2 linked regions of the Homo sapiens genome follow. The protein of the gene in region 1 interacts with the protein of each later gene in a biochemical or structural test. Each region holds a gene or a part of one and is shown in the gene's direction. Other genes may lie near its edges.

Region 1 (3,754 bases):
ATAGAAGCTCTTTTAGTGTAGTATCTATATCTTATTCATCTTTATCCTTCTAGCATATTATGTAATACTGGACATAGATAAGTATTTGAACTAAAGTCTTGAATCATTTCTACCTCTTTTTTAACTTAGTGTGCACCATAGAGTAAGTAAACATTTTTCATAGAGACGCTGAGGGCCATAAGGAGCCCCCAAAATATATTTTGTATGTCAAAATAGAGTAATTATTAATGGATACCATATAAGAAGAATGTGTGATTTTTTTTTTTATCAGCATCAGTAAACATATAACTGTTCTGCTAATATACTTAGTAATATCTATGATTTGCAAGATGCTTCTGGGAATATAAATATTCATAAATATACATCTCTGTGTTCAAAATGGAAAGTGTGAGTTGACATAGATATGCAGTGAAGTGTGAGGACAGCCTCAAGGGAGAATTAGCTCTTGTCCATTTGTGGCAGATTTAGAGAGACTTTATGAGGAAAGTTATGATTTTTACAAATAAAGGGCTGTGTTGTGATTTTAGCAGCTTACAATTGGTAGAGGTACCTCGATTGAAGGAAAGAGCCTGAGGCATGTGATTTTTTTAAATGCTATTATCTAGATGAACTTTTACAAGATGAACCGCCTGGGGATAACAAGATGAATATATTTGGTTTTTAACATGACACATTTATATGCTTAGAGTTTGGTAAGTCAAAAACTAAGTAAATTGGTTAAATGACTAATGGAAAAGTCATTATCCATCCAACTGTGGATATTTTCTGTTTTGTTTTGTTTTAATTACCACGATTCATTTGTTAGAAGACCTGCAAATTTTTTTCCCCCAAGATATAATTAGAAATCACACACTTATACCGCAGTTAATTTGTATATATTAATTCTGGTGCTACCTGAACATTCTGCATTCTTTGTTAAAATAGCACATCTGTCAGGTGACTCGGGTAGTTAACCTTTTGATTTCTTAACATTGCAAGTACAGAAGGCTAAAGAGGCAGTATTTAATGGATATTGTAGAGGGCGGCATATGACCAACACTGAGCATGTCTTTTCTAAGAGAGAGGCTAGATCTAATTGTTTAACAAATTAAAAAATTTATACAAACAAAATATAAATAAAAAAACAAAATAAAATAAAAAAAATTTATTTATTTTTAAAATATTAAATGTAGTCCGTATGGGTTTTCATTTGAAGTTTAAGAAATTTATAAGAAAGTAATTTACAAAGACAAGGCAGGTGTGGTGGTGCACACCTAGCTCTGTGGGGGGCCTAGGCAAATGGATGGTTTGAGCCCAGGAGTTCAGGACCAGCTTACCCAACATGGTGAAACCCCCTTTTGACAAAAAATGCAACAACAACAAAATATTAGTAGAGTGTGGTGGCGTGTGCCTATAGTACCACCACCTGGGAGGCTGAGGTGGGAGGATCACTTGAGCCTGGGAGGTTGAGGCTGCAGTGAGCCGAGATCATGCCACTGCACTTCAGCCTGGGTGATAGACTGAGACCCTGTCTCAAAAAAAACAAAACCCAAAATACAAAATACATTAAAAAGTCAATATTGAACTTTTCTCTCACCTGTTTTAATAGTGTGTAACACTAGGAAGTCTGCTGAAGGTTTTGAAGTAGCATGTAACGTAAAAAAAATACTTTAAAAATCCAGAAATACAGCTGGCTTACACCTGTAATCCCAGCACTTTGGGAGGCCAAAGCAGGCAGATCACATGAGGCCAGGAGTTCGAGACCAGCCTGGCCAATGTGGTGAAACCATAGCTCTACTAAAAATACAAAATTAGCCAGGCATGGTAGCACACACGTGTAATCCCAGCTACTCGGGAGGCTGAGGCACAAAAATCACTTGAACCCAGGAGGCAGAGGTTGCAGTGAGCGGAGATCACACCACTGCATCCCAGCCTGGGCAATAACAATACGCTGTCTCAAAAAAATAAAAATAAAATTCAGGAATCCAGTCATTGCCAGGATATCTAATTATTTGTTGCAAAAACAGCTTAGTGCTTCTGCTATAACAATGATTAATTCAAAACCAGATTTTTCTGGGAAGAAGATCCCATTATTTTTGTATTGCATATAGTGGAAATAGCAGTAAACTGGGAGGTCGTGAAACTTGTTGCATTTTCAAGCTTTGTCTAATGTATGTCATCTTACTTGGCAACTTACTTCGTAAAGTGAAAAGACTACTAGTCCCTTATGCTTCCTTTCTGGAATTAGTTCTATTGTACTACTTATTTACTTCCGAAAATACTAGATATTCACTCATTGATATTCTTCTCGTGCCCTACACAGCATGCCTGACGTTATTTCTGTTTTATTTTCTTTTAGTGTGTTGTTGGTGGCTGCAATGCCAGCTTTGCTTCTCAGGGAGGGCTAGCTCGTCATGTACCCACACACTTCAGTCAGCAGAACTCCTCAAAAGTTTCTAGCCAGCCAAAGGCCAAAGAAGAATCTCCTTCTAAAGCTGGAATGAACAAAAGGAGGAAATTAAAGAACAAAAGACGACGCTCATTACGTAAGTGTTACACTGAGAAAATCTGGTGTATTTCATGGTTTTAAAAGATATCTTAGACTTTTATGCAAATCCACTTTGAACTTCAACTCCTCTTCTATTAAAAGTAACAAACAGGTAGGATGCCTGTCTGTCAGTGAGAGTGAGAATTCAGTGGCACATGTTTGTAGTAGCTAAGGGAGTATATGTGGCCTTCAAATATAAACTGTATAAAATTAGATTTGGGGGCTACTCTGATTCTCTTCCAAAATAACATTTAAAATATAGTAACATTGGTATTTCTAGAAATATTTTAGAAAATTTGAACATGTTAAAAGTAAATATCAAGTGAAAGTTAAGTAATCTATCTACTCCAAAGTAGTGTGTGTACCTGAGCTGGGAGGTAGAGGCTGCAGTGAGCCGTGATCGCGCCACCACACTTGAACCTGGGAGACAGAGTGAGACCCTGTCTCAAAAAACCAACAACAAAAAAAACCACCACAAAGCAATGTGTGTGGATAACAAAGCAGTGTTGCTTTTTTTTTTTTTTTTTTTTTGAGATGGAGTCTCGCTCTGTCAGCCAGGCCGGAGTGCAATGGCGTGAGACAGGGTTTCACTGTGTTGGACGGGCTGGTCTCAAACTCCCGACCTCAGGTGATTGCCTGTCTCGGCCTCCCAAAATGCTGGGATTACAGGTGTGAGCCACCACACCCAGCCGATAGCAAAACAATTTGAATGTAATGGGTGTCATAGTACCTAGTCTATTGTAACATATGTATAATGTTTATGTGTTTACTTACCAAAATGTATCCTTGATGTTTAGGATAGAAAATAAGTAGATGATAAGGCTTGTAAATGCTGGGAGTAGGAACAGACTTTGCAACCTCAGAGTGTAGCTGGTCACTGCTTCTTTGTGTCAGCTGGTTAGTTTGTGGCTTTATTTTATTATTATTATTATTTTTTTGATGGGGTCTCACACTGTCGCCCAGGCTGGAGCGCAGTGGTGTGATCTCGGCTCACTGCAACCTCCGACTTCCGGGTTCAAGCAGTTCTCTGTCTCAGCCTTCCGAGCAGCTGGGATTACAGGCACCCGCCACCACGACTGGCTAATCATTATATTTTTAGTAGAGGTGGGGTTTCGCCATGTGGCCAGGCTGGTCTTGAACTCCTGACCTCTTGATCCACCCGCCTTGGCCTCCCAAAGTGCTGGGATTACAGGCATGAGCCACTGTGCTCGAGCAGCTGGTTAGTTT
Region 2 (3,712 bases), on another chromosome or scaffold:
CTTTTGAGAAAACTCCACAGACTATTGATCCAATTTTGCATTTAGCCAAGAGTCATCACACTGGGTGGTTTCTAAGGTCCTTTACAGTTAAAAACTTGAATAATAGATGTCATATAGCACTAGGATTTAAAAAGTCTAAATAAAAAAGGTAGAGAAGAAAAATGTGTTGTCTCCTCCCTAATCTTCAAGTGGCCATACTATTAAATTATTTAAATGCCTGTGAACCCCACAGGGCTGCCACCTGTCACTATATTATGTAGGCTGTCCAGTAAAACTCTAGGGGCACTGTTCACTTACATGAGGATTTCTGAATCCTGGTGCTATTTAGTTTAGGCCAGATAATTCTTTTTTTTGTAGGGGGTTTCCTGTGCATTATAAGATATTTAGTAGCATCTTTGGCCTCTACCCATTAGAGCACAGACACATTGTCAAATGTCCCTTCGTGGGCAAACCACTGACCTAGACAGTAATATGAATAGTGCCCACAGTTTTGCAATTTTTTCTCATTGTATTCTTTACCACTTACTGCTTAGGTATGTGCATACAAATTTGATTTTATAGGATAGGAAAAGTATAAGTTTGAAGCCTATTTCAATCCTATCCCCATATGAGTGTCTTGATGTTAAACAACTGCTTTACTTGCCTTCGATTGCCCTATTTATAAACTGAATTCTAAGGCTATTTATGTGAGTTCATCAACTTTCCTAAGATACCTGTTGAGTACCTACTGTGTGGCACAGATACTGGATGAAGGAATAATAGTTAATAAGGTAAAGGAAACCACCTGTGATTAGAAGCGAAATGGGAGACTGCATGGGGAAAGATGAAACTAGTGAAGTAAGCAAGAGCCAGATTAATGCCGGATTCTGAAAAGCCATGTATTCTAATTCTGTGTGTTTGTAATTGACCTGTGCTATAAAACACTTAAAGTCTCTGGGTGTCAGAGTATCTAGAGCTGAACTTGGTTTAACTTGAAAGAGAAATGTTGACTTCCAAAATGAATATTTCAGACAATGTGATTCTTTTGTATTATCGAATTCTGTTGATAATCAGATTTCTTGTCCTTAAGTATGGTCATTGACTGTAAATATAAATGAATGTACATCACTGTACTTGATAGATGGATTAACCAGGTTCTAAGAGCTGTGAATTCCAAAACAATAGAAAAGCCTTGTTTTTACTTTGTAAGATTCAGTTCCTCATTAACATTTCTTTTTCTCATTTCTCTCTCTGTTTTAGTCTTGTGAAAATGCCATTGTGTGCTGGAAACCTGGCAAGATGGAAGATGATATAGATAAAATTAAACCCAGTGAATCTAATGTGACTATTCTTGGGCGATTTGATTACAGCCAGTGTGACATTTGGTACATGAGGTTTTCTATGGATTTCTGGCAAAAGGTATCAACATACTTTTACATTTTGAAATGATCTGACTTATGAAAGACCATTGTAATTCTAGCTTTTTCTGTTGTGTCCATGTTCTTTTTCCTTTACAAATCTACCCTGATGTTTTGTATTGATTACTTTGCCCTTTGATGTCATTCATCAAATACTTTGGTGTTATTCATTCTACTTTTGTGGCTCTGCATATGATCTGCAGTGCTTACTTTAAATTAAGTTGGCAGTTAGGTATCAATGGTGGAAATTAGGTGTTTATGTTCCATAACATAAACATTATCATAACATTACTAAGACTTAATGTTTTAGTAATTAGATTGTCAGTCTACCTATGTAACTGTTTCCTAGAGAAAAATCAGGATAGAAGACAGATAAAATACTAGTTACCTAAAAATTTAAATAAATCTATTGTTAGGATTTTCTGGTAACAAATTACTTGGGTATTTATTTCTGTAAGAAAAGTTTGGAAGGCTTTCCACAGCATTTGCTGTATTTCTTGAAGGCAGAAGAAAAAGTAAGTACCATGCTAACAATGTAAATTTGTAAGGCCCTTCATAAATTTGCACAATGCCTTCTTACTTGCTCAAGACACTTGTGATGTATTAATTGCTCTTATTCATATTTACGAATCAGGAGTATAAGACCCAAAGAAATAGCCAAGAGCACAGAGGCTGGAACTGAGCTTTTTCTGAAACAAGAAAGCTGTCTGAGGATTCCTCCAATGCTTTAGAACCTGGTAATTTTATTAATTTGATGTTTTTAAAAATATGTTTATACAGATGCTTGCATTGGGCAATCAAGTTGGCAAACTTTATGTTTGGGATTTAGAAGTAGAAGATCCTCATAAAGCCAAGTAAGTATTTAGAAATTTCTGTTCAAAATTTCAGGCTTTTTCTCCACACTTGTATGCCAATGTAGAGAAGATCATTTATATTTGCAGTGCCATCCTTAAGTCATTTTTAACATTTACTGTTTTCAGAGTTAAAGTTATTCTTTTTTATTCCAATAATTTTTGTTTTTCCTAAGTACCTTGGTGACAAGTCATTTCTTGTTTTTATACAAATTATGTAGTGCTTGTTGAACTTAAAATATATCTAAATTTTATAAAATTTGAGACTGAGCTCTTAGTGAAGTATATTCTGGTTTTAAGTGCTTTTCGTATGACTTGGAACATCTGCTTATTTTCTAATCCGCTGTTTTAGGGTAGACACTGACAACGTTATGTGTGGTCTTTAACCTGTTGTCATGTTTTTTCCCTAGATGTACAACACTGACTCATCATAAATGTGGTGCTGCTATTCGACAAACCAGTTTTAGCAGGGATAGCAGCATTCTTATAGCTGTTTGTGATGATGCCAGTATTTGGCGCTGGGATCGACTTCGATAAAATACTTTTGCCTAATCAAAATTAGAGTGTGTTTGTTGTCTGTGTAAAATAGAATTAATGTATCTTGCTAGTAAGGGCACGTAGAGCATTTAGAGTTGTCTTTCAGCATTCAATCAGGCTGAGCTGAATGTAGTGATGTTTACATTGTTTACATTCTTTGTACTGTCTTCCTGCTCAGACTCTACTGCTTTTAATAAAAATTTATTTTTGTAAAGCTGTGTGTTTAGTTACTTTCATTGTGGTGAAAAAAAGTTAAAAGTAATAAAATTATGCCTTATCTTTTTATAATGGTTGTTTTTTGTAGTTCTCTTAACCAGAGAAAGTTTTGTAATACAGAGATTAAGTATAGGCTCTAGAACTAAAGTGAATTCAAATCTTGGCTCTCCTACTACGTGACCTTGGATAAACAACTTCTCAATGCTTGGTTCCTTGTGTATAAAACAGGGATAATAATACTTGCCTTGGGGTTATTGTGAGGATCAAATGATTCGTTATGTGTGAGACAGTTAGAACAGTATTTGACATATAATAAGCCCTAAATGTATTCTGTGTTTATAATTATTGGAGATTATAGTTCCTATGGTTTTATATTTTTTAATGATTTCTTATGTAATAGTTTCATAAGTAATATTTAAAATTCTACAGAGTTAGAACCTCTGATAATGTTTAACTGTAACCTTTCTTTATAGTTTAAAAAATATTACTGCCATTAGATTTGGAACTAGGCCATTGGTAACCTTAGAGGAGATATCATTAGGGCAAAGGAGGAGAGGATATAGAAGTTTAAATGCAGTGGGTTGGATCATGAAAGAGATGGCAAGTATGTCCATGTAGTGAGTTGTTGCCCCTTTTCTAGAAGGATGTTACTGGCTAAGAGGGATTAAGTAGATTGAGATCATAAGGTTGGGAATAGTTGGTTATTTTGTC

Evidence for each region. Proteins that work in one complex are often made in the same cells at the same time.
Region 2: the proteins of AEBP2 (region 1) and EED form a complex in vitro, tested with the Homo sapiens proteins (one study listed by BioGRID).

What each region holds. Positions count from the first base shown.
Region 1 is NC_000012.12:19,491,462-19,495,215, forward strand, and holds part of AEBP2 (zinc finger protein AEBP2), read left to right. Parts: intron 1-2,338; coding exon 2,339-2,525; intron 2,526-3,754. UniProt on the Homo sapiens protein: Acts as an accessory subunit for the core Polycomb repressive complex 2 (PRC2), which mediates histone H3K27 (H3K27me3) trimethylation on chromatin leading to transcriptional repression of the affected target gene.
Region 2 is NC_000011.10:86,275,741-86,279,452, forward strand, and holds the end of EED (polycomb protein EED), read left to right. Parts: intron 1-1,239; coding exon 1,240-1,398; coding exon of another isoform or gene 1,399-1,428; exon of another isoform or gene 1,429-2,031; coding exon of another isoform or gene 2,032-2,079; exon of another isoform or gene 2,080-2,177; coding exon 2,178-2,251; coding exon of another isoform or gene 2,252-2,255; exon of another isoform or gene 2,256-2,658; coding exon 2,659-2,785; 3' UTR 2,786-3,070; downstream 3,071-3,712. UniProt on the Homo sapiens protein: Polycomb group (PcG) protein. Component of the PRC2/EED-EZH2 complex, which methylates 'Lys-9' and 'Lys-27' of histone H3, leading to transcriptional repression of the affected target gene.